Linked DNA regions of Homo sapiens. The protein of the gene in region 2 interacts with the protein of the main gene of each other region in a pairwise test. Each region holds a gene or a part of one and is shown on either strand. Other genes may lie near its edges.

Region 1 (9,199 bases), on a different chromosome or scaffold from region 2:
GGCGCTGAAGTGCCAAACCTTCGTGCGTGTTCTCTAGTAATTAGGTGCATTGTTTTGAAGGAATAAAGAATGGCTACTCCATAGGCAGGACAGCCTCTAGTAACCAGGTTTGTTTTGTGTATTTTCATTTGGTTAAAAATTAAGTTTAGGTTGGGCGCAGTGGCTCAGGCCTGTAAGCCTGACAGTTTGGGAAGCCGAGGCTGCAGGATCATTTGAGGCCAGCCTGGGCAACATAGCAAGACCCCCTCTATAAAAAAAAAACTGTAAACATCAGCCAGGCGGTGGCGCACCCCTGTGGGCCAAGCTATTCTGGAGGCTGAGGCTGGCGGATCACTTGAGCCCAGGAGGTCGAGGTTGCAGTGAGCCGTGATGGCGCCACTGCACTCCAGCCTGGGCGACAGAGCGAGACCCCCTTCTACAAAAAAAAAATTAAAAATTACCCCGGGGAAGGCCAGGCGCAGTAGCTCACGCCTGTAATCCCAGCACTTTGGGAGGCCAAAGCGGGCGGATCACCTGAGGTCGAGGGTTCAAGACCAGCCTGACCAACATGGAGAAACCCCGTCTCTACTAAAAATACAAAATTAGCCTGGCGTGATGGTGCATGCCTGTAATCCCAGCTACTTGAGAGTCTGAGGCAGGAGAATTGCTCGAACCCGGTGGTGGTGGTGGGGGGGGTGGGGTGCGGAGGTTGCAGTTGGCCAAGATCGCACCATTGCACTGCAGCCTGGGCAACAAGAGCGAAATTCTGTCTCAAAAAAAAAAAAAATTACCTCAGGGAGCCTGTGGTCCCAGCTACGTGGGAGGCTGAGGCTGGCGGATCACTGGAGCCCAGGAGGTTGAGACTGCAGTGAGCTGTGATCAGGCCACTGCACTCCAGCCTGGGCAACAGAGCAAAACCCTGTCTCTAAAAAAACTAAGTGTATACCAAAACAAGATTTCTTAACACATCTTGTCCATTACATCAGGGAAAACACTTGTTCTCTTTCACTTCCATGTTTAACTTCTGCCTGACACAGCTATTCGTAGCCACATTGTGATTATAGTAAGTCACTGACAAAAAATGTTGTCCTGAAAGCCAAGGCTACGTTCGGTCAGAATGAGCTCCTGCAGGTCTGGAATTGTTAGAACAGCGTATCTGGTTATAGCCGCCCTTCATATTAATTATTAAAATGTTACATCACTTAAGGCTTTTATACAGTTTTTCCCCCAAGCCCCATAACTTCAATCTATAACAGTGAGCAACTAGCAGACACATTGGAAGTGTTTAAGAAGCCAGCCTTTAAGAAAAGGAACAGAAGGGACAAAAACCCCAATTAATGCGAAATCATCACAGATAATGACAGGTATTTAGGTGGCCTGGTTTAGCTAAGGCCTGGAAAAGAACAGATCGGGTTTAAAGAGTGGCCTGCCGGGAACGCGATGCGGCGTGGTCTGCCGTGCACTTGGCTTCCTGCTTCCATCCTGTGGTGCCTCTTCCAGGAGCCCAGTTCTGAGTCTCTGATGCCGATGTCCTGTATTTACTGGCTTAAAACTCTTGCCTGTGTGAGATTCCACAAACTCTGGCACAGAAGGCCCCAGATCTGCCCAAGAAGCTGTGGGATCAGCCACAAAATCTCACCAACGCCAGGTTTCTGTCCTGCCCTCCCTGGCGCTGAAGGGGAAATAGAACAGAGGCTGTGTTCAGGTTGCTGTCCTGCCTGCCGCCCAGCGGTGCAGCTTGAGCCTCCTTTTATGAGAGGTTTCCACCCAATTCTAGATGTGTATTGAGGTATCTACACATGGAGGGACGTGCACATATCACACGTGCAACTGGCCTGAGCCCTTTTCAGACAATTAGTCCGCTCCAGGTCAGCGTGGATCCAGGGTGAGTCAGAGGCGTCTTCAGATGCAAAACCTCAGAATCAAAAAGGAGGAAAGAGACTCCACTCACTCCTCGGGCTTCCTGTCATCTCTCAGGTGGGGGTGGGAGAAGGCCCAAGAGGTTGCATGATAAAAAGACTGGACAGCTGCATTGCTGGTTTGGAAAATCCTTATTTTTGGAGGGATATTTGGGGATAAAATTTCAGAGGAAAGCAAATGTCTCATCAATCATGAAAAAAGATTTGTTACAACCTAAGTCAGAAAAGGTTTTCATCTAGTCATATATGTGTGGCAAATACGGAGAAGCCACAGACGGTGAGCCACAGACAATGAGAGCAGCTGTTGGGGTGGGCTCCAGGGTGCTGCTTTCCCTGAGGGCCAGCTGGGTCTGGCCCAGGTTCACTTCCCACCCCGGTGCCCCCGGTACTCGCTGTCTCCAGCCTCAGGTTCTGAAAGGCAGAGACTCCTAGCCTCATTGAAGGATGGTTAGAGAGGCACGGGAGCTATCTAGTGGCAGGCCCACGGTATATGTTTGCTGCTTTCTACAAATACGAGATCAAAGGAAAATAAAGCAGGGGTGGTTCCTGTCAGTGTGGAGCGAGACCCGGGAAAGCATCCTGGTGGCTGTCAGGCCTTGCTCACGGCCCCTTTCTCTTTCAGGGAGAGGATCCTCCACAGTGGTATCCTGCTGCGTGCCCCTCCAGGACAGCACCCAGAGGCCCGAATTGCTGCTGCACAGAGAGCACTCGGCCTCACCCCACGTTTTCCCTAAGTTCTGTCTAGTAATTCCACTTTGGAGAGGGGGGTGTTCCTTGACAGATTTAGAGAGTTGATGTAACTTCCTCGGATCAGTTCTGCTGGCTCCATCCCCTACCTGCTCAGCCCTGCACAAAGTGGCTAAGCACGCCACACTGCCGGCTCCCAAGGCGATGGCCACCTGCCTCTGTCTCGGCCGCTAGTGGCAGGAAGATGGAAATCCCTCACTTTGTCCCTAGATTCATTTTATTTTATTTTTGTTTGTTTATGTTTTTTTAAGGACAGAGCCTTCCTCTCACCCAGGCTGGAGTGTGGCAATCACAGCTCACTGCAGCCTCAGCCTCCTGAAGCTCTGGCATCAGGCGGGAGCCACTGTGCCTGGCCCCATAGACTCATGTTAGCATAAACAAATAGGAAATGTACACAGCTCAGGAAATGGCTACTAGATACTTAAGTCCCCCAAACAGAAATATATTTCCTCTGAAGAAACTGAAAAAAGTGGCCGGGCGCAGTGGCTCATGCCTGTAATCCCAACACTCTGGGAGGCTGAGGTGGACAGATCACTTGACACCAGGAGTTTCAGACCAGCCTGGCCAACATGGTGAAACCCTGTCCCTACTAAAAATACAAAAAATTAGCTGGGCATGGTTTTGCACGCCTGTAATCCCAGCTACTCAGGAGGCTGAGGCAGAAGAATCACTTGAACCCAGGAGGCGGAGGTTGCAGTGAGCCAAGATTGTGCCACTGCACAGTGTCCAGTCTGGGCAACAGAGCAAGACTCTATCTCAAAAAAAAAAAGAAAATGACAAAGTTATTTTTTCTCTCTTAACTCATAACTGGGGCCAAAGGCAGGGTGACATCACTGGGGATGCCAGTGTGTGGAGGCTGTCCCCTGACCAGTCCTGTCCACAGTCAGGAGGGCAGGGGCTGCAGTGCACAGACCGCATTGTTGTGGCATGGAGGGGGGTCCCACAAAGGCCTTGTCAGCTCATGGGACCACATTGGCAGCCAGCATAGTGACAGAAGCCTCAGATAGGCAGTGAGCCATTGCCAAGACTCCATGGTCCCTTGGTGTCTGTGGCCACCAAACAGATGACAGAACCAGCCCCTCTTGTTCAGCCACCTGGGAGGCTGCTCCCAAGCCTGTTGAGCTTGAGGATCCTTAACCACTCACCAGCTCTCTTCAGTTCCCCTTCAAATGCTGTTTTATCTCAGCGGAACGTACTACGCCCTGTATTTCCTCGCCACGCTCCTGATGATCACGTATAAAAGTAAGTCAGGGACGGGCACAGTGGCTCACGCCTGTAATCCCAACATTTTGGGAGGCTGAGGTGGGCGGATCACTTGAGGTCAGGAGTTTGAGACCAGCCAGGCCAACATGGGGAAACCCCATCTCTACTAAAAACACAAAAAGTAGCCGGGCGTGGTGGTGGGCGCCTGTAGTCCCAGCTACTCGGGAGACTGAGGTGGGAGGATTGCTTGAACCCGGGAGGTGGAGGTTCCAGTGAGCCAAGATTGCGCCACTGAACTCCATCCTGGGTGACAGAGCAAGACCCTGTCTCAAAAAAAAAAAAAAGGAAAAGGCAAGCTGAGGTGGCTGCTGCTGCTGTGCCAGGTTACTTATGTTCCGTCCGCGCCTCTGCTCTTCAGGTCAGGTGTTCAGCTATCCTCACCGCTACCTGGTCCTCGATCTTGCTCTGCTGTTTCTGATGGGGATTCTAGAAGCAGTTCGGTTATACCTGGGTGAGTGGACTGTTAACACCGTGAAGAACCTGTCCTAAGAGTTGCTATCTGTTTCCACAGCCTTTCAAGAGTAATTATTTTATAGTGTGGTTCTCAGAGACATTTTTTATCCAAACTGCTTACCCAGTTGCTTTGCAGGCTCACCTTACAGTGTCATTAAGTATTAATCAAGAAGTTTTGTCCCAGAGACAAATAACACTGGGGGCATCGTTGGGAGAGACTCTGTGTTTGGAAGCATGTCTTGTAGAAGCCACTGGGTAATGGCACTGAGATCAGAAAAGCCCAGCCCACCACCACATCTGGAGCTCCGGAATATTCACCAGCACCCCTTTCCTTCCCCTTGCCCTTAGCTGTCTGAGGAGAGAGCCCTGGAGAGTTCTGCCAGGTCCCAAAAGGCAGCAGAGTCTGGAGGGGTGGGAGCCCCCAGCCTCCCCACTCCAGCTCTAGGGATCCCCAAGTCTGCAACCCCTTCCAGTGACCTACTTTTTTTGAGACGAGGTCTCACTCTGTTGCCCAGGCTGGAGTGCAGTGGTGCAGTCACAGCTCACTGCAGCCTTGACCTCCTGGGCTTGAGCGATCCTCCTGCCTCAGCCCTCCCCTCCTCCCAAGTAGCTGGGATTACAGGCACCTGCCACCACGCCCAGCTAATTTTGTTTTGTTTTGTTTTGTTTTTTTTTGGTAGAGACGAGACAAGGTTTCTTTTTTTTTTTTTTTTTTTTTTGAGACAGAGTCTCGCTCTGTCGCCCAGGCTGGAGTGCAGTGGCGTGAACTTGGCTCACTGCAAGCTCCGCCTCCCGGGTTCACGCCAGTCTCCTGTCTCAGCCTCCCGAGTAACTGGGACTACAGGTGCCCGCCACCACGCCCGGCTCATTTTTGTATTTTTAGTAGAGATGGGGTTTCACCATGTTAGCCAGGATGGTTTCCATCTCCTGACCTCCTGATCCGCCCACCTCGGCCTCCCAAAGTGCTGGGATTACAGGCGTGAGCCACCGCGCCCGGCCGGAGACAGGGTTTCGCTATGTTACCCTGGTTGGTCTTGAACTCTTGGGCTCAAGCAATCTGCCCACCTTGGCCTCCCAAAGTGCCTGGCCTCACTCCCCTTTTTTTAACCACACAATTTGTTCAAGGGTATGTTCTTGTACAAGATTCAAGGGGTGCAGAAGTAAAACATGGAAATTCGCCCTCCCCAGAGCTCACCTCTGTGGCCAGCGGGGTGCAGACTTCCAGCCCTCTGCGTGCTCATGGTCGTAACATGTGCACCTAAACACACGTGTTTGTGAAACATTGTCCTGCCGTGGGGAACGCAATGGGCACTTCCAGGGCGCTGTGCCCCTGCCAGGCTGGAATCTTGGGCCCCTCTTGTTCACATACAGATACACCCCTGATGCCTGATGTCCAGTGAGGAACCAAGGCTGCGGGGAAGGGTGGCCCCCACCCTTCCTCTTGTTATCAGGCCTCAGACACACTAGGAGGATGGAGGCGAGTTCTCTCAGCTGCCCATCCCACTGAGGGGTGCCCGGCCGTCAGTGTCTTGTCTGCACTTACGTCCCAGAACCTCTAGAGCTTGCCCCCCAGGGCGGGCACTGCTGGGAGGGTGCGAGCACCGCTGCGGCACAGAGGCCCGGTTCTTGGCTGATCTTCTGGGGCCTGGGCCTGCCCTGAGGTGGTGGGGACAGGGTGTGGCCTGGCCCTGCTGGGGGCTGCTAGGCCAACGGGACCCTCCCCAAGCGCGCCGCACACTGCAGGGTCTCCAGGCACCTGGGCTCAGCTAGTGACTGACCCATTTGTTTGCTAAATACGCAGTTTTGTTTTTAATACATACTCGTGAAATTTTCCAGAACTGGCCTTGGACCAGAGAAAAATACTTTGGGAATTTTTCAAAAAAATCCCTTCAGTTCCACTTGGAATTAGGAAAACGTGGCAGATGCACTTGAATCATTTTAGAAACCAAATTCACCCCCGCCCACACAGCCGACCCAGAAGACCCAGAGACAGATCAAACCATGCTGTTGCAGGGGCACCTCCCCCAGGAGGGGCTCACGCCTGTGTTGCCCATGCTCTCTGGCTCTCCTGAGTTCTGGGTGGCCATGGAGGCTGTTTCCCTGGAATTCCCCAGGCCCCGGAGGAACGTAGGGCAAGGAGCTGCTCTGGTCCCAGCAGCCCTCCAGGCACCTGTGGGCGGTGGGCTCCAGGGAGCGCCTCGCACCACCTTCCCTCCCCTTTGCTCTGTTCTCCAGGCACCAGGGGCAACCTGACAGAGGCTGAGAGGCCGCTGGCCGCCAGCCTGGCCCTCACGGCTGGCACCGCCCTCCTCTCTGCCCACTTCCTGCTTTGGCAGGCCCTAGTGTTGTGGGCGGACTGGGCCCTCAGCGCCACGCTCCTGGCCCTTCACGGCCTGGAGGCCGTCCTGCAGGTGGTTGCCATCGCGGCCTTCACCAGGTAGCTACGGACACCCGGGATACCCCACACTGGGGCCCTCCTCCTGGGCCTGACCAGTCCCCCAGCTGTCACCTCCCCATTCCTGGACAGGAAGGGCACTTTTCCTAGTGACTGGCCATAGATGGTTTTGGATGGTTCCATCTGTTCTGGCAGGAGTGGGAGCAGGAGCCAGGGCAGAACAAACTGCTGGAGGCCCTGGTGTTGGGAACAGCTGCGGGGAGGGTAGGGACCAGACAGAACTGCCTTCAAGATGAGTCCCAGGAGCGCACACTCAGCCCTGTCAGTGGGGTCTGGCTTTAGCAGCCAGGCCTCCACAGACCCCCATGGGCCCCCAGGGCCGAGAGGGAGGACAGAGCCCTTCAGAACAGAGGCCTCATCTCACTGCATCCCCCATCACCCCCTAGTTCCCCAATGGTCCTAATTTGTGTTCTGAGATCCCAGTTTACTCCGTGGCCAGGCCCCACCTGTGTTTCCAAGTCGGGCTGGAGACGCAGGATGGGGTAGGCCTTGTGCTCTGAGCAACCCCAGCTCTGCCTCACAGGCAGGCAGGCCCGGTGCAAGAGTGGACTCTGGGTTCCTAAAGCAATAAATGCAAACAAGCCAACAGCTCTGCTGCCTAGCAATTTCCATCTTAGCCACACTTCTCCCTTCAGGGGCTTCGGAGGAGAGGTCAGGGCTAAGGCCGGGGATGAGACTGCAGGAGAGAGAGCAGCGGAGGGCCACATTCGGAGCCTCCGTCCACTCCAGTTTTATCAGCTTTTGCCTTTTGCACGGAGTGCTAAACAAATTCTAGCTCTGTGTTTTTTTCCCATTCCCAGATTTACTATCAGTTCTCCTTAAAAAGTATCTAAGCTGTTACAGTAGCTTTCCCTTCACTTGATTCTATTGTGTGTTTTCTATGTTTGGAATAATTACACCCAAATATCTAGATATTTTCTCTTCACCGCATTTTGTAAATAAAGAGATGTGTATGCCTCCCTGAATTCTCCTAATTATGGCCACCTCCCCCACCCCATCTCCAGTTCTCCTGCCCTGCAAGAGAGCACACCCCACTTGCCAGCTGGTCAGTTCCTGGCTGGCCTCGCCCTCGGGCCCTGGCTGCCGGGCGCCTTCCGCTCGGTGGACTCCTGAGGGCAGGAGGCTGCGGGACTGTCCTGGGCCTCCACTGGGGCTCCCTCGGCTGGGGTGGCTGTGGCTGTGGCACCTGGACAGTCTTTCCTGCCTGTCTTCGTGGAAGCGGTGGGAGCACCCAGTTGTCCTGGGCCGACTTCCTTTGACCTGTCTGTGGCCCCCAGTGGCCACGGTGAGCTGCAGGACAGCCCTGAGGACCCACTTCACACACCAGCGCCTGAGCGCCTCGGGCCACCTCCCTCACCAGCGCCTGCACTCGCAGAAGACCAGCTGGGCACACCTGCCATCTGGAGGACCCAGCCCACAAACCATGCAGACCAGGGAAGGACCCCCTCCCTGAAGCTGGAGACCTGTTGCCTTCATGGTTAATGGATCCTGATACCTCCAGTCTCAGCGAGCACACAAAGGCAGTGGTCACCTGTTCCACAGGGAACGCCATGGCTCCAGGTGACCCGGAGTGGATGGGGCCCGAGAGGCCAGCCTGGACTGTCTCCTGAGGGCAGGCTCCGCACTCAAAATCGTGTTGACAGGCACCCGTTTAGGAGTGGAGAGGGACCCCACCCCCCAGCTGTCCTCTCCAGCGCCTGTTTCCCACTTGGCCACTCCCAGCTCTGCCTCCAGGAAGGGTGAGGGCACGGGTGCACCGAGGGGTTGGCGTGTGTGACCCTGAGCTCTGGGTCAGGGCAAGCTCATGCATGGAGCAGGATCACGGCAGGTTCCTGGAGATCAAACGGCAAAGGCTGTAAACCAGGAAGCCAGGTCTTGCCTGGGCTCAGGGGCAGGCACTGGGCCCGAAGGAGGAGGGCCACTTCCTGCCAGCCCTCCACCGAGCTCACCTATGGCGCCTCCCCAGGAAGTGCTCCGGCCAGCCCAGGGTAAACACGCTAGCCCTGCCCCTCTGGGACCATAGCCCGGGGACCCAGACTCTTGGCCACGCTCATTCCCACCCCTACCCAGGACCGGCAGCCGGAGCCTTGGGTCCCTGCATGGGCCTGGGGCGCCCTGTGCCCCTTCACCTCGTCCTCGTCCAGTTGACTGCTGTGGCAGCCGGTGCTACCCGCTGTGTCCACTGCACCCTGGCCCTGTTCTGAGCGGTCACAGCAGCTGGGGAGAAGGGCCATCCTGGAAGCCGGGCAGATGAGGACGGAACCAGACAGTCCCACTGTGGTGGGCAGAGGTGGGGCCTGGGCCTGACCACGGGGCAGTGCAAGGAGAGAGGCATCCTGAGAGGGCCTGAGGTGTCCCCACCTCCCCTGACACCCCATCCCTC
Region 2 (17,642 bases):
GGTTCTCCATGAGGGCTCTGTCCCTGCAGCACACTTCTGGCTGGACATCCAGGCATTTCTATATATCCTCTGTAATCTAGGTGGAGGTTCCCAAACCTCAATTCTTGACCTCTGTTTACCCATAGGCTCAACACCAAATGGAAGCTGCCAAGGCTTGGGGCTTAAACCCTTTGAAACTACAGCCTGAGCTATACCTTGGCCCCTTTGTATGCCTTGGCCCCTTTTAGCCATGGCTGCAATGACTAGGATGCAGGGCACCAAGTCTCTAGACTGCACGCAGCAGGGGGGGCCTGAACCCAGCCCACAAAACCATTTTTTCTTCCTAGGCCTCCAGGCCATGGGTGGGAGGAGCTGCTACAAAGGTCTCCGACATGCCCTGGAGACATTTTCCCCTTTGTCTTGGCAATCAACATTTAGCTCCTTGTTACTTATGCAAATTTCTGCAGCTGGCTTGAATTTCTCCCAGAAAATGAGTTTTTCTTTTCTACCACATTGTCAGGTTGCAAATTTTCCAAAACTTTTATGCTCTGTCACCTCTTGAACACTTTGCTGCTTAGGAATTTCTTCTACCAGACACCCTAAATCATCTCTCTGATGATCCACAGATCTCTAGGGCAGGGTAAAATGTCACCAGTCTCTTTACTAAACCATAGCAAGAGTCACCTTTGCTCCAGTTACCAACAAATTCCTCATCTCTATCTGAGACCACCTCAGCCTGGACTTCATTGTCCATATCACTATCAGTATTTGGTCAAAGCCATTCAGCAAGTCTCTAGGAAGTTCCAAACTTTCCCACATTTTCCTGTCTTCTTCTGAGCCCTCTACATCTCCAGGAAATTCCAAACTTGCCCACATTTTCCTGTCTTCTTCTGAGCCTTCCAAACTGTTCCAACCTCTGCCCATTACCCAGTTCCAAAGTCGCTTCCACATTTTCTGGTATCTTTAATAGTAACTCCCCACTACCTCAGTACCAATTTATGGTGTTAGTCCATTCTCATGCTGCCAATAAAGACATACCTGAGACTGGGTAATTTACAAAGGAAAGAGGTTTAATTGACTCACAGCTCCGCAGGGCTAGGGAGGCCTCAGGAAACTTACAATCATGGCAGAAGGGGAAGCAAACACATCCTTCTTTACATAGCGGCAGCAAGGAGAAGTCAGAGTGAAGAGAGGGAAAGCCTCTTATGAAACCATCAGTCTCATGAAAACTCATGAAGGCAACCAACCCCCTGATTCAATTACCTCCCAGTGGGTCCCTCCCACGACACATGGGGATTATGGGAATTCAGTTCAAGATGAGATTTAGGCGGGGACACAGCCAAATCATATCACACTGGTAGGAATATGGTGTAGGTTTTATATTAGATAGTTGATCTTAAATTTGTTTCTTTCTCTCTCGTTTCTTTTTTTCCCCACAGAAGATAGAATTATATTTCCTGAAATAATCTATACAAAGGTTTGTAGAAAGACAGAAAACGTTTACAACCACATTCTCTCACTCAGCTCCTAATTTTTCTCTCTTGTTAAACCAGGCAACTTCAAAACTAATCCTTAAGAAGCCCCTCCCTCAGCCTGCTCTGCCTTCCAGTGATTGTTATTTTTGCTATTACCAAGAACATGCAAGAGGAAAACAAATGCACCTTGCAGGAGAATTATTTGAAGCTTACAAACTATTTTCACTTGAAGGGTTATGAAATTTTACTAACGTTCTCTAGTGAGGCAAAAATTACACAGGTCTTGATAACAGAAACACGAGCAACAATTAAACTCAGATTTTAACATATATAATTTTAGCATCTCATAAAGCTAGTCTCAACTTCTGCTTTTTTACTTCATATCTCAACAATACTATAAGGGACTGCAGAATCATGATTGCAAGGAAAATGCACAGTTTCCACCTCTCCAATAGGACTAAGCACTTCTCATACTCCAGTCAAGCAAAAAAATCACTTTGTACCCTGACATGAAGCAAAAATAACATGATCATCCTGCCTGAAAGTTGGTCTCCAAAATAAAACTTCAAACACATCTCATTCCCTTAAAGAAATAATTTTTTCCCTTGATTGTTTGCTATGCTGATGTCTGAAAACAAGTCACGACTTTTAGGAATAGATAATTGTGTAAGAAAGTTGTTTTTAGTCATGAACAACAGACTAATGTAAATGGAGAACTTTGGTAATTTGGTGGAATATTTTCTTTCAAGTATTTATTGTGATTTTATTTGATGAGCCAGTCTTATAAAGCCTGACTCCCTTGCACTCTGGGGAAGTAAACATTTTCTTTCCTTTTCTAACTGCTTCTGCCTCTAAGTCTTCCTTTGTCAAAAGTAAATGTAACAATAAACACAGATTGCTACTCTACTTAATTTTAACCCAAGCATATGTTACCTACTCTGAGCTAGCACAACTTGTGGGGCCTGCTCAAATGTCAACTGTATTTTGGTTTTCTATTGCGCCTCAAAATACACTCAAGGGATTCATCTTCCCTGCCCTCAAACAAATACTTGAGTAGATCCCATGATGTTTCTGCTCATGCAACAACTTCAAAGTCCCAAAAGAGGCCAGTCACAGTGGCTCACAATTGTAATCCTAGCACTTTGGGATGTGGAGGCAGGAGGATCACTTGAGCCCAGGAATGCAAGACCAGCCTGGGCAACATAGCAAAACCACGTCTCTACAAAAAAAGTTTTTTTAATTAGCTGGGCATGGTGTTCTGTGCCTGTAGTCCCAGCTACTTGAGAGACTGAGATGGGAGGATCACTTAAGCCCAAGAGGTTGAGGCTGCAGTGAGCTGTGATCATGCCACTGCACTCCAGCCTGGGCAACAGACAGAGTGAGACTTTGTCTCAAATGAATAAATAAATAAATAAGAAATATAAAAACCTAAAAGAATTAAAATGTCTAATCTTTGGAAACAAAAGAAACTCTGACCCATTATAACACAAATCTGCCCTATTTCTGCAATGTCCTGCTGCATGCTGGTCTCCTGCTGGGGTTGGGGGAAGGTAAACTTCTTTTCTATTTCTCCACCATCCACTCAACTGCTAGCTAGTTTCACATCACTCCAAGACCAAAGCAGGAGGAAAGGACTGAATTAACTATCTTCATACCTCACATGGGTGTGTTAGTAATACTCACCTTCCTTCAGCTGGCTGCTCATTCCTACTTCTGCTGCCAGGGGCCCTCGCCCTTAGGCCAGCCCTTCCTCCCATGTGGCCCCACCTGGCTCCCAGATCATCTTCAGACATCCTTTGCCCAACAAACTCTGGGAAGGTGAGTGATCCAGCCACCTAGGCCCCTGTGTGAGCCCCAAATGCAAGAAGCACATGGACAGCTCAACTCACCCTCAAATGGCCCCACTGAGAGGTGACAACATGCTAGCAGCCCTCGCTCACTCTCAGCACCTCCTCAGCAGTGTCTGCTCCGGCCATGCTTGAGGAGTCCTTCAGCACACCGCTGCACTGTGGGAGCCCCTCTCTGGGCTGGCCGAGGCTGGAGCTGGCTCCCTCTGCTTGCGGGGAGGTGTGGAGGGAGAGAGAGGGGCAGGAACCCGGGCTGGCCAGCGTGAGTTCTAGGTGGGCGCAGACTCAGTGGGCCCCACCAGCCCTGGGCAGTGAGGGGCTTAGCACCCAGGCCAGCAGCTGCAGAGGGGGCGCCAGGTCCCCCAGCACTGCCAGCCTGCCTGCGCCGCACTCAAATTCTCACCGGGCCTCAGCCGCCTCCCTGTGGGGCAGAGCTCAGGACCTGCAGCCCGCCATGCCAGAGCCCAGCCCCCCACCCCGTGGTGGGCTCCCGCACTGCCCGAGCCTCCCCAACGGGCGCCGCCCCCTGCTCCATGGCGCCTGGTCCCATCAACCGCCCAAGGGCTGAGGAGTGCAGGCTTGTGGCATGGGACTGGTGGGCAGCTCCGCCCATGGCCCTGGCGTGGGATCCACTAGGCAAAGCCAGCTGGGCTCCTGAATCAGGTGGGGACTTGGAGAACTTTTATGTCTAGTTGGAGGATTGTATATGCACCAATCAGCACTCTGTGTCTAGCTCGGGGTTCGTGGATGCACCAATCAGCACTCTGTATCTAGCTAATCTGGTGGGGACTTGGAGAACTTTTATGTCTAGCTAAAGGATTGTAAACACACCAGTCAGCACTCTGTGTCTAGCTCAAGGTTTGTAATCACACCAATCAACACTCTGTGTCTAGCTCAAGGTTTGTAAACGCAACAATCAGTGCTCTGTGTCTAGCTAATCTAGTGGGGACTTAGAGAACTTTTATGTCTAGCTGGAGGATTGTAAATACACCAATCAGCACTCTTTGTCTAGCTCGGGGTTCTTGGATGCACCAATCAGCCCTCTGTGTCTAGCTCAAGGTTTGTAAATGCACCAATCAGCACCCTGTGTCTAGCTCAAAGTTTGTAAATGCACCAATCAGTGCTCTGTGTCTAGTTAATCTAGTGGGGACTTGGAGAACTTTTTTGTCTAGCTGGAGGATTGTAAATACACCAATCAGCACTCTGTGTCTAGCTCAGGGATTGTAAATGCACTAATCAGCACCCTGTCAAAACGGACCAATCAGCTCTCTGTGAAACAGACCAATCAGTTCTCTGTAAAGTAGACCAATCAGCAGGATGTGGGTGGGGTCAGATAAAGGAATAAAAGCAGGCTACTGGAGCCAGCAGTGGTAAGGCGCTCAGGTCCCCTTCCACACTGTGGAAGCTTTGGTCTTTCCCTCTTTGCAATAAATCTTGCTGCTGCTCACTCTTTGGGTCTGCACTGCCTTTATGAGCTGTAACACTCACCGTGAAGGTCTGCAGCTTCACTCCTGAAGCCAGCGAGACCACAAACCCACCAGAAGGAAGAAACTCCAAACACGTCCGAACATCAGAAGGAGCAAACTCAGAACACACCATCTTTAAGAACTGTTAACACTCACCGCAAGGGTCCGTGGCTTCATTCTTGAAGTCAGTGAGACCAAGAACCCACCAATTTCAGATACACCATCACTAGCTTTGGGATGAAGGAAGTAAATCTATTCAACAAGGCCTCCTTGCTCAACCCTCATATTATTTTTCATTTTGTTTATTAAAACATTTCTTCATATTCCTTTGCATGATGAACCCTCATACTCTTGAAGTAACCAGTGGGTTCAAGAGTTATGGAGAGGTTCTCATATATCTACCTTGATATTTCATTTAGGAAAAAAAGCCAAAATGAGAAAAATTTAAAAAAAAAAAAAGACTAGACAGAAAATGACACAATGAGGCATTATCTGGTAATCTTCCAAATATCATAGCTTGGTATAATAATAGTTCCTTAAATATATTACACAAACATCATAAGAATATTGTTCTTCCAATATTTTTTGTACTCCAAGTAATGAAAACATTTCCCTTGAAAGCTAAAAAGGACAGATGTGATATTCTCTTTATACAATTTGAACTAATTTAATATGTTTGATAAAAGTTATCTATGAACTGTGACTATCAAAAAAGGTCACAGATAAATAATTCAGAGATGAATTCTGATTGGCAAAATACCTCAGCATCTGGGGGCCAACAGAAATGGGGAGGAGGAAGCGAACAGCTTTCCAGAATATGTTGATGACATAATCTGCAAGGTAAAAGAAGATGACCCCCACTGTGACCAGAATGGGGCTAGCTCAGAAGGCTGAAAGGGGGCAGCTAGCGATGGGTATGAACACTCACGCAGAGGCAGCAGGATCAGCAACACAGAACAGGACACATGCATCACCAGCGCGCGCTTCACAAAACAGTACTTTCCCTTGCTCCTGCAATGCACTCTGATATCTTATCTTTCTTTCTCTTGGCTTTCATGTTTTAAAAACTGCTATTTGCAACTCACTAAACTGATCATTAGCCTAATGAGTCACAGCCCACATTTGAAGACAATGGATACAGCATACCCTGATCTATATCCCAGTAGATTGCTAGAAAAGGGAAGGGAGTTGGTTTGGCGTAAGTATTTGTAAATGCTTCCCTAGGTAGTTTTGAGCTATCTTAAAGAATTTGTTCTAGAATGTTGCCAGGATTCAATGTTTCCCTCTTTTAAAAAGTCTCCTGGGTCCATTCTCATCTCTCATACCTGCACAAAGATGACTGTAACCGCTTTCACTACTCTAGGACGTCTGCCATTTGGGTTTTGAACAATCCAGTCCAGTTTCGGGCTTCGAGACCCTCTTTAAAGGGTTTAGGCTGGCCTCACTTTGAAAAGAAAGATACAGACTGGAAGCAACTCTTCCTTTTCCTATCACCTGTTAATATTATCTATTCTTCCATAAACACTGGATGATCTTCCTCATAAGAACGAAACTCCTTGTGGGTACCCCAGCTCACAGTGGCCTCTGGCTTTCCTGACCTTATCCTTGCAGGCCCTCGTCACTCTCCTGCACCTGTTCTTGTCTGTGTACCCCATGCAATGTACCTAAAGGAAACTAGACTCACAGTCCTAGCTTCCAGACCCCTACTCCCCACTATTACTTAACTGGGGCAGTCACCTTGGAAAACGTATTTAATATCGCAATCTAATTTTCTCTACCTGCAAACTGAAAATACTACTGTTTACTTTTGGGGTTTTCGTAAGAATTAATTTATGCATAAGAGTTCCCTTCTCTCGTCTCCCTGGACACATTCCCTCAAGCTTCCTTTGCCTTCAAAACACCAGAGTGTTTCACTGTTGTCAAACTAAATGCAGAGTAGTGGCTGAGATTCTGTGCCATCTAACATGCTGTGGAAACCACAACGCCTCCAAACAGGTTTCTGCAGAGACTACTCTTTGCCTTCCTCAATTAATTACACAGAAAGGATGGGAAAGGCACGGGGCACGGGGCGCGGGGCGGGCGGGGGGAGCGGGGGCGGGTTGCGGGGTGGGGCGGCGGGGAAAGTGTAAAACCCCTATTTCCCTCTAATCAGTAACACGACCTGCGAGCAGGCTCCCCAGTCCAAACAAAATGAATGAGCAACTGTCAAGCCAGGCATCATCTGAGAACCCTGCCCAGTGCATGGAGGCGCGCCCGGGGCCAGGAGCCAGCACATTTCCCCAGCCCAGGGGGGCTCTCTCAGTTGCAGGGCACCAAGGCGGCAGGAGGGCCGCAGCAAGGAAAGTTTTCTCACCAGCGGGAAAGGGTGTGCCTCGGCCGCTGGGGCCCAGCGGAGGGGAGGAAGCCCACCCAAGCCCCGAGCGCCGCCGCTTCCAGGCTTTTCGGACGCCCAGCGGCGTCCACACGCACATCAGCGGGCTGCCGGGAAGGTTTTAAACTTGGTGCTCTCCACGGGGTCCACACTCTTCCCGTGGGCGTCCTCACACCCCAATTCTCCTCCTCCCACCCCATTCTCTAGCCCCTCTAAACTAAAGACTGCCCCCAAACCCAAGCAAGCCCTGCCTTGACCAAAGCTGCACGCGCCCCGCACCCAGCGCCCGGGCTTTGCTCCGCCCTGGGCGCCCTGTCCCGCCCGTGGTTACCGGCTGGCTAGCCCCGGCCCGCGGGCTCGGCCCTGGTTCCGGCTCCTGGCTCCTCCGAGGTGCGCGAGCGCCGCCGCCGCCGCCGCCTCCCACCGCCCAGGGCCGGGCGAGTAGCTCCTAGATCCGAGGTGCGGCGGAGACGCGCGCTCCCGACCCGCAGCGGAGGCGGCGCGGGGCGCCGGAGCAGGGCTGCAGCGCGGGAGCCGCCTCCCCAGCGCGAGAGCCGCCTCCCCAGCGCGAGGCCGCCTTGGCCAAGAGGAGGTGAGCTTTGCAGATCCCTTTCCTGCTCACTTTGCCCCTCCGAGTCCGGGTCAGAGCCTGAGTCAGAGAATTCTTTGCCATCCCGGGCTCTGCAGTGGGTCCCTCGGGTCAACTTTGGGTAACAGGAGGAGCTCATTAGCTGAGCAAGAGGGAGTGGGGTATCATGAATCAAGGCTTATGAAAAATCGGCAGCATTGAGTTCAAGTTCAGTAAGGCCAGAGCCCCCCCATAATGTGCTGCTTAAATTACTACCTCGATTTTAGTTTCTCTTCCTGCCCACTGGTCCAGGTGTCAAAGGGCAGTCAGACGTTCAAACGGGGTCCCAAAGGGCTAGCACTGGGCCGGGAGTAGTTTCAGCATAGCAGGGCTGGCTCATCTCTTCCTCCCTTGAGTCCTTATTGCATGCCAGGCATTGATCTGGGAATACAGGTGCTTGGTGCTTGCATTCTACTAAAGAGACAGGCATAAACATAACAAATAACTAAAATACATAGTATGTGAGATAGTGATGAAGTGCGGTGGACAAAAAAGAAGGGAGGAAATGGGATAATGTTTGGAGGTAGGGGGTGCATTTTTAAATGGGATGGTCAAAGATGGCTTCACAGTGGAGTAAAGATCTAAAGGAGATGAGACAGAAAGAAGTCACGCTGGTATCTGGAGAGAAAGCACTTGCTGTGTGGCAGGCACTGAGATGTTCTTTACTGCACTAGTCATTTCTTTTACTACTCTCCATATGCCATATTAGACAGGTATTGCCACCATTTCCATTTTACTGATGAGAAACTGTAACTTAGGAAGGTTAAAGGAACTGCCCAAGGTCATATGCTAGTCAATAGAGGAGCTTGCCTTCAAGGTCAGGAAGCCTGGTGCCCCAGAACCATAGTTTAACCACCATTATACAGCAGCAGGGGAAATGCAGCACCCATGCAGGCTGGTGGCAGTGTGATGAACTCAAGCTGGTGGTGCCAAAAGAGGATTCCTGGAAATGACATCTCATCACTGATTTTTTTTTAAAAGCTCAGTTTCATTACCACTTGTAAAATGAAATATTTTGAACACCATTTTTCTTCTTCTTCTTTTTTTTAATTTTAAGTTCTGGGATACATGTGCAGAATGTACAGATTTGTTACATAGGTATACATGTGCCAGCGTGGTTTGCTGCATTTATCAACTTGTCATCTAGGTTTTAAGCCCCGCTTGCATTAGGTATTTGTCCTAATGCTCTTCCTCTCCTTGCCGCCCACCCCCGACAGGCCCCGGTGTATGATGTTCCCCTCCCTGTGTCCATGTGTTCTCACTGTTCAACTCCCACTTATGAGTGAGAACATGCTCATTTGGTTTTCTGTTCCTGTGTTAGTTTGCTGAGAATGGTGGTTTCCAGCTTCATCCATGTCCCTGCAAAGGACACAAACTCATCCTTTTTTATGGCTGCATAGTATTCTATGGTGTATGTGTGCCACATTTTCTTTATCCATTCTATCATTGATGGGCATTTGGAGTGAACAGGCAACCTACAGAATGGGAGAAAATTTTTGCAATCTATCCATCTGACAAAGGTCTAATATCCAGAATGTACAAGCAACTTAAACAAATTTACAAGAAGAAAACAACCCCATCAAAAAGTGGGCAAAGGATATGAACAGATACTTCTCAAAAGAAGACATTTATGCAGCCAACAAACATATGGAAAAAAGCTCATCATCACTGGTCATTAGAGAAAACCATCTTTATAGTGTGTGTATGTATCTTCTGCCTCATCCACAAGCAGTTTGATTCTAAATAACATAATTTGACAATCTGTGATAAGATTTATTAATCATTCCCCAAGTGTCCACACCAGTTCCAGTTGCTCATTCCTATTCACAGGGATGTGATTCCTCACCCCTGCAGTAGAGCCTCTGCCAAGTGTCTTCAGGGCATTGTGAAAAAGAGTGACAAAACTGCTGCTTCTGAGGGGCTACGGTGTGAACAGGCCAATTTCTGCCTTAGCTGTCGGCATCAGGTGGCCTTGTTCTGGGCAGAGCATCAATGGCTCCAGACAGAAAACCAGGGCACATTGTACTTTGTGAAAAAGGCAGGTCACTAACCCTTGGTTTCAGAAGCTGAAACTGCAGCATCTGGTGAAACAATGACATCAATAGGATGGCCAAGCCCACATTTCTCTCCTAGATATCTCCACCTCCTCATGGTTGCATTCATTCCTGTCTTCCTTCCTCCACTGTCAGCAAAAATCTTTTGACCTTTCCTTTGTAGGAAAGGTCTTTTCAAACACCACTTGTCCCAAAAAGCCTTCCTCATTGTCTCAGCTACAAACGAACTCTTAATCTAAAATCTGATACCTCTCTTATGGCACCTGACATTTCCTACTTTATTTTAAAATTTAGCCTATACTGTATACCTTAACTCCTCCATAGGCCAAATATTAATTTATATTTAATTTCTCCACAGGTCCTAGCATAATGTCTTCTACCCAGTAGACATTCAATGAGTATATTTTTACTGTTGTTCTTAATAAATTAATCTGCAAGAATACAGCTTCATTGTCTTTTAATTTTGTCTTTTCATTCCAAGATAACTCACAGAAATTTAGTGACAGGACTAAGTTATATGTAGCTATAGCTGTTGTTCATCAATATAAGTTGACAATGGTTTGTCTTGAGGTAAATTCCATTTGCCTTATTTCAAGATTAGAAAACAGAGGCTTTAGAGTAATCTCCCTTAGGTCACAATACTAGTCTTCAAGAGAGCCAGGATTTAAACCCAGCACCGTTTGGCTCCAAAATGAGCTCACCACAAGCTCATACTTCTCTTTCAGTCGTTCATTCAGGAATGCATTCATTTGATCTTTCAACAGATATTTGCAAACATTGACTGTGCTCAGCTCTGTCCTAGACACCAGGAAAATAGCAATGATTAAAACACAGTCCTTGTCCTCAAAATGCTCACAATCCTGTAGAAAGGACAAAGGTAAGGAAATAATAAAAACTTAGTATTATAAACCTTTTAGACTCATGGATGTCCTAGAGGAGCACTTGGTTTAACTTAGGTTATAGGAAGTAGGAGGTGACAGCATGGATTCTCTAAGAAGACAGAATGTAATTTTAATTTTGAAGTTTTTTACAATGCTAATGAAGGAAAGCATATGGTAGACAGAGGAAAGAGCGCTTGCAAAAACACGCGTGGAAGGATACAATGCATTCAGAGAATGGCTTTGCTGATTCAAGAGGGCTGCAGCATGGTGAAAGCAGAGTTGACATGAGGCTGGAAAGGTAAGCAGGGCCAAATCACAAGAGGTGCACAGAGTAGCTTTTATGAAGTTCATCACCCGCTTAATATATATAAAAATCATGGCTGTCTATGTATGTCAACTTTCCAGGGTAGAGAGAGGTTGTCTAACTTTAGTCAAATTCTCAAAAAGGCTGAATGACCCAGGGCTAGGAAGTGGGGGAAGTCACTTTCCTTTCCCACAGCCTTCCATAGGTCCATGGACTTCAGGAAATCCCAAGGAATTGCAACATCAACCAGGATATGCTGGATACCTGGATTGGGGTGGGTGCAAGGCTTGCCCCTGCCAAATCACCTCCAAACATGCAGTGGCACTGACATCCCGGGGCTAGGATGGCTTGACCCTGGTCCTCCCAGCACCTGTGCCCATGTGCCTTCTAAGTGTGGAAGGAAGGGGTTGCTGGGTGGCCAGAAGGCCAAGAGGCAGGGAGGCACCTGAGAATGTGTCCTGGGAAGGTGGCAGAAAGCAGGGCCACAGAGAGCCACGACTCTAAGCCCTAAGCGCGTGCTTCATTGCCTCATCTGACTTCAATTGCTGCGATGGGCTGAATGGTGTCCCCCAAAATTCATATGTCCTAAGCCTTGGTACCTCAGAATGTGACTGTATTTGGCGATCGGGCCTTGAAAAAGGTGATTAGGTTCAATGAGATCATATGGGTGGGCCCTACCCCAATCTGACTGTTGTTATAAGAAGAGTACACACAGAGAGACACCATGGGGCATATGGATACAGAAGGACTCCGATATGAAGAGGCAGCATGGGGGTGGCTATCTGCAAGGCAGGGAGAGAGGCCTGGAACAGAGCCTTTCCTGACAGCCCTCAGAGGAAGCCTACCCTGCTGGCACTTTGCTTTTGGCCTTCATTTCCAGAATTGCAAGAAAATACATTTCTATTGGTTAAGCCACCCAGTCTGTGGTACATGGTTATGGTGGCCTGAGCAGACTGATAGACTTACAGAATACCAATTCAAATTTCAAAGAAGTTTAAGAATTCCAAGATGGCGACCACAGAGCATTAAATCCCCAGGGAGGATTTAATGCTTAACCTTCTAAGCATGGTGTCCTGTGCCACTGCACCAGTCATACGCCCATGAAGCTAGGCCTTGGGAATTGGGAAATGGAGATCTGAAGACAACTTGGGGTTCATCAGTGAGGTGGTGTGATTAAAGCTGGCAGATGGGTGAGACTGCTTCTTGGAAACATAAAGTGAGAAGAGAAGAGGGCTGATGTCAGAAAGAGCAACTAGGGACATAGAGGTGGACAAGAAAAGGTGAAACCCAGTGGAGAAATGGGTAATAATGTCTAAGGCCCAAGGACATGTAATTAGGAACCAAACCCCATGGGCCCTAGCATGGAGGTCATGTGGTAGGCACTGGGACCAGGTTGCTGCTGGTTAAAGAATAGGGAGTGCAATTACAGGCTAGTCTTCTAAGCAGGCTTGGGAGGAAAGAGGAGACTGGGGCTGCTGAGGGCCCTTGTGCAGATTTATGGGAGACAGGAGGTCAGGAGGCCTAATATCCAGCCCACACCCAGTCACCAAAGCTAAATCAGCCTGCTGGAAGGGCCAGTGGAAGGCCTTCTAACCAAGACTCCAAATAGCCTAGGCCTGAATAACAAAGCTGTAGCTGGAGCTTTTCCTGTGGATATATATATATATATATTTTTTATCTGAATCCTCTCCCTAGATCCATGAGAGAAGCAACTGTTCTGCCTCCATGCAGCCCCCAGAACAGTGGCGCATAGTAGGCACAGGAAACAAATGTTGAATTAACCAATGGGAGACAGAGTCAAGGGAAAGGTTGTGCTTGTTTTGTTTTGTCTTTATTCATTTGTTTCAGATGAGAGACATAAACATGTTTCTAGATTGAGAACAAGGATCCCAAAGGAAGGGATAAGTTTAAGATAAGAGTTGAGAAAGGAAATAATTGATGAATAAGATAATAAAGAGTAAGAGAATAAATCAAGAGAACTTCTGGAGGGGAAAAAAAAAACCTGAATTATCCTTCAGGAAATTTAATCATTTAGTCATTCATTGATGAGTATCTCGCATTGTCCTGGGCCCTTCTGGGGTTGGGGAACTGAAGGGTTGGAGGGTCAGGGTGGATACAAAAGAAAACCTAAAATATATTCCCTTTCATTTGTTCAAGGTGACACCATCTAGTTAAGAAGTATTTTATGGAAAAAAATACACAGCAATGAAACACAGCAAGAATGTTCCCAGACGTCTGAGTAATAAAGAAAGATTTGAAAACAGAGTGAACTAAGAAAATGCCCGGAGGCATTACAGCAGAGGTGGAGAGCAGATAGGGAAAAGGAAGTAGAGAGAAAATAAGGGAACATGAGCTCTGGCATGGTTTCTTGGCAATGGGCTGGCTGGCAGCTGGCAGCATCAGGAAAACAGGGGCTCAGTGTTGACTCAAGACCTGGGAAGCTCCATTTATTTTCCAGTTGATTAGGACCAATGCCAGCAGTCAGGCTCAGCAGGAAGCAGTAAAATCAAGACTTGTCTCAGAGAAGGACACATCCCTGATAGTTAATGTGTCTGGGCATGGAAAACCTGGCTTTTTTATAATGAGTCCAACAACAAGGCAGGACCAACTGAAGAAAGTGATGAGAAAGAAAAATTGACATTGTTTTCAGAAGTTAAAGTACATACTATGACACAGTTACCTCTCTAACTTGTTTCCTTTAGAGACGAGGATAATCTATCATCCAGTCAAATCAAAGGCAAAACCTCACACACAAAGGAACCCAGGAATTCTACTAGCTAAAGCCAACCCAGGGAGCAGCAAGTACAACTCATATCAAGGATACAGTTTCCTCCTTTTCCTCAATTAAGTTTCAGAAAGTAAATAGGAGGAGTGAGTGTTCAGAAGCCCCAAGGCTTGCAAGATGTGAGGAGTGCATGCTGCAAATGGTCACGTTCTCATCGTGAATTGCTCCCATCTCATTAATGGCAACAATTCTCTGCCCATTTCTTTCTTAGGTGATTTGAGGGTTTATTGAGTATTATAAACTTTCTTACTCTTTGGCATAAATTGGATTTCATTTGCTTTGTCTTGGTTTTATACTGTTGCTCTTTTCAAATCAGCACAATTATTCCTGAATATATGTGCACTGCTTTCACTTGCCAATCATTCCTTTTTATTCCAGGGAACACATGCCAGGGCACCGCACACCTCTGCAGGCTCATACATACAGGACCTCAGCCCCTACTTCCTGGTAATATTCATTTTTTCTTTCCCTTCCAATGTTTAATCATTTACTTGAAGCTTCCCGCTTGCTGCTAATCCTATTGTTTTGTTCCTCCAGTAGAACTGCACAGACTTCCACCCACATAACGTGGCACTAGGCAGACAAAACATCTGATATATTTTAGTTCATGCTTGGCATTCAATCAAGAAGACGAAGCTGTGAGCCATGCTGAAATGCCAACTAAAATTCATTTTGCACTACCAGAAAGAGAGAGAGATGGCACACCGAGGAGAAACTGTAGCCTCATGGCGATCATGTGTAGCCCTAGGCTCTAACACTAGCAAATTTCTTTCCCTCAAAATTGAATTGGTGCATTTTGAAGTGAAATCCTGATGGCTTCTTGTTTACTATCACACAATAATGAGGAAGCTTCAGTTTATTGGCACGGAGCTCAGCCACTCTCAGACAGCAAATGGAAAAGAGAGACTAACTTGTCCTGGTGCTTTGCTCCTTGTTATTCCTTTAATTGTGTCACAGCCAATACAACGCATGATGGAATTATTCCGAAATAGAGAAACACGTTGAGCCTAGACATTGACTGTTACAGCGGTGTGGGTGGAGTCCACACATACTCATGCCCCCTCTCTTTCCCACATGCCTGCACACCTGTCTATTCAGTGAGGGGAAGATGAGGTCTTGCAGCCCTGGGTGGCTTCATCTGCCCATGAGGGTCACTTTTCTCTTCTTGGTTCTTTTACCTCAAAGATATTCTGTGATCACTATGTGCTGAAAGCATTCAGCATTCTTCTGCCTCTGCTCAAATTATCACTAGTACTGTTCTTAACATTTCTGGTCCCACCAAAATTCATGCCCATTTTGTAGAAACTGACCCAATGTGAGGATGATGAATAATAAAAAGGAGGTGTGTGTGTGCGTGCGTGTGTGGGTGTGTGCATGTGCGTGTGTGTGTGTATCTGGGTATGTGTGTCTGTGTATAAAATCTCAGAAAGAAATGTTGAAATAAATATGAAACATTTAAATTTTTTATTATTTTAAAGGTAATATCAGCACTTTTTGGAAAACAAAATAGAAGAAAAAGTCATCTATAACTTCACTACTGTAAAACCACCAATGATAGCATTTTGTACTTTTATTTTTAAATTTTTTTATTTTTAATTTTTATGGATACATAATAGTTGTAAATATTTATGGGGTACATGTGATATTTGGTACCAGTGTGTCAATATGTAATGATCAAACAGGGTAATTGGGATATCCATCACCTAAAGCATTTAACATTTCTTTGTGTTAGGAATATTCTAATTCTACTTTTTAGTTATTTTGAAATATACAATAAGCTATTGTAAACTATAGTTGCCCTATTGGGTTACTGAGCACTAGATCTTATTTTTTTTTTTTTAATCTAACTGTATTTTTGTGCCCATTAACCAACTCCTCTTTATCCTCTCTCCCTACTACCCTTCCCAGTGTCTGGTAATCATCATTCTGCTTTCTATCTCCATGAGTTCAATTTTTTTTTTAGCTCCTATATATGAGTGAGAGAATGAGATATTTGTCTTTCTATATCAGGCTTATTTTACTTAACATATTGCATTTACTTTAAGACTGTTGTAAAACATGGCTGTTTACATAGCAACCATATGGTGTATTAGTCCATTCTTAAACTGCTGTAAAGACATACCTGAGACTGGGTAATGTGTAAAGAAAAGAGGTTTAATCAGCTCATGGTTCTGTGGTCTGTACAGGCTTCTGTTTCTGGGGAAGCCTCAGGAAACTTACAATCATGGTAGAAGGTGAAAAGGAAGTAAGCACATCTTCATATGGCCAGCAGGAGAGAGAGAGAGAAGGGGTGGGGTGCTACATACTTTCAAACAACCAGATCTTGTGAGAACTCTATCGCAAGAAAGTCAAGGGGGAAATTCACCCCTATGATTCAATCACCTCCCACCTCCCACTGGTAATTACAATTCAACATGAAATTTGGGTGGGGACACAGAGCCAAACCATATCATATGGTACCTTTAAATGAGTATATTGATTTTCCCACATAATTCCATTATATTGTAGGCATTTTCTATATTATTATATAACTTTATAAGCATCGACTCCTTTTTGAGAGGGTGTTCTTGCTACATTACCTAAGTTGACCTTAAATTCTTGGGTTCAAGTGATCCTCCCACCTCAGCCTCCTGAGTAGCCAGTACTACAGGCAGGCACCACTGCACCTGAATCCAAACATCAACTGTTAATGGCTGAGTAGACACCATAATTTATTTAACTATCTCATTATTAATAGACACTTAGGTGGACTCCAGATTTTTTTCTACTATAACTATTGCTGCAATGATATTTATATTTATCATTATATTATATAAAGGCAGATATGATAAAATACACAGCTATATTACAGATATTACAAAATACAGTTATTCTCTCTGGACCTTAATATTTATTTCACATTTGCAGAAATTTTTCAGATGTCTACCAATAGGTGGGTCCAGCAATATCTAGCTTTGCAAACAAGGGCCTCCTGTGGGTAACAGCAGACATATACCAATGCAATTTTTTGTTTAAAAACCCTAAATTTTTCCTTATTTTATTATCAAGAAATGTAATTATTAAATGCCTTACATTTATAAGTGAGAAATCATCCATTTAGCCTGGACATGGTAAATCTGAGGGCAGGGAGAGATAATAACTGTCTCCAAATGTCTGAAGACCCAGAAGCCCAGGGAGACTTGCTCTGTGGCCTCAGGTGGAGGCAGGTTTCAGCTGAGTGAGGGGAACTTCTGCCAGGTTGTCCAGAGAGTTCCCCCTTGGTGGCTATGATCTCGAACAGGCTGGATAAGCACCTGGCAAGGACAGAGTCAAGGTGTTCATCAACCTGCAAGGCTGGATCATGTACTCATTAAGCTCCCTTCCAGCCCTGAGAAACAGTGACTCTAGAAGTTATATAAAATGAGTGTTCTCTGGCCGGGCGTGGTGGTTCAGGCCTGTAATCCCAGCTCTTTGGGAGGCTGAGGCAGGTGGATCACCTGAGTTCGGGAGTTCAAGACCAGCCTGACCAACATGGAGAAACCGCATCTCTACCAAAATACAAAATTAGCCAGGCTTGGTGGTGCATGCCTGTAATCCCAGCTACTCGGGAGGCTGAGGTAGGAGAATGGCTTGAACCTGGGAGGTGGAGGTTGCAGTGAGCCGAGATCGCACCATTGCACTCCAGCCTGGGCAACAAGAGCAAAACTCCATCTCAGAAAAAAAAAAAAAAAAAAAAAAATTAGTGTTCTCCTTTTGTAAAATAGAATATAATTGATTACCATAATCTTGAATAGTTTAAAGTGAAAAGGTGAGTTCCTTTATCATGTGCATTCATTCAATAAATTTGTATTGTGGACTCATGATGATTCAGGC

Evidence for each region.
Region 1: the proteins of MRAP2 (region 2) and TMEM80 interact in binary tests that used the Homo sapiens proteins (3 or more experiments, as listed by UniProt).

Annotation. Positions count from the first base shown.
Region 1 is NC_000011.10:696,349-705,547, forward strand, and holds the end of TMEM80 (transmembrane protein 80), read left to right. Parts: intron 1-2,520; coding exon 2,521-2,540; intron 2,541-3,793; coding exon 3,794-3,887; intron 3,888-4,266; coding exon 4,267-4,359; intron 4,360-6,596; coding exon 6,597-6,802; 3' UTR 6,803-7,326; coding exon of another isoform or gene 7,327-7,387; 3' UTR 7,388-7,451; coding exon of another isoform or gene 7,452-7,638; 3' UTR 7,639-7,781; downstream 7,782-9,199.
Region 2 is NC_000006.12:84,023,711-84,041,352, reverse strand, and holds the start of MRAP2 (melanocortin-2 receptor accessory protein 2), read right to left. Parts: upstream 7,582-17,642; 5' UTR 7,470-7,581; intron 7,235-7,469; exon of another isoform or gene 7,121-7,234; intron 1-7,120. UniProt on the Homo sapiens protein: Modulator of melanocortin receptor 4 (MC4R), a receptor involved in energy homeostasis. Plays a central role in the control of energy homeostasis and body weight regulation by increasing ligand-sensitivity of MC4R and MC4R-mediated generation of cAMP.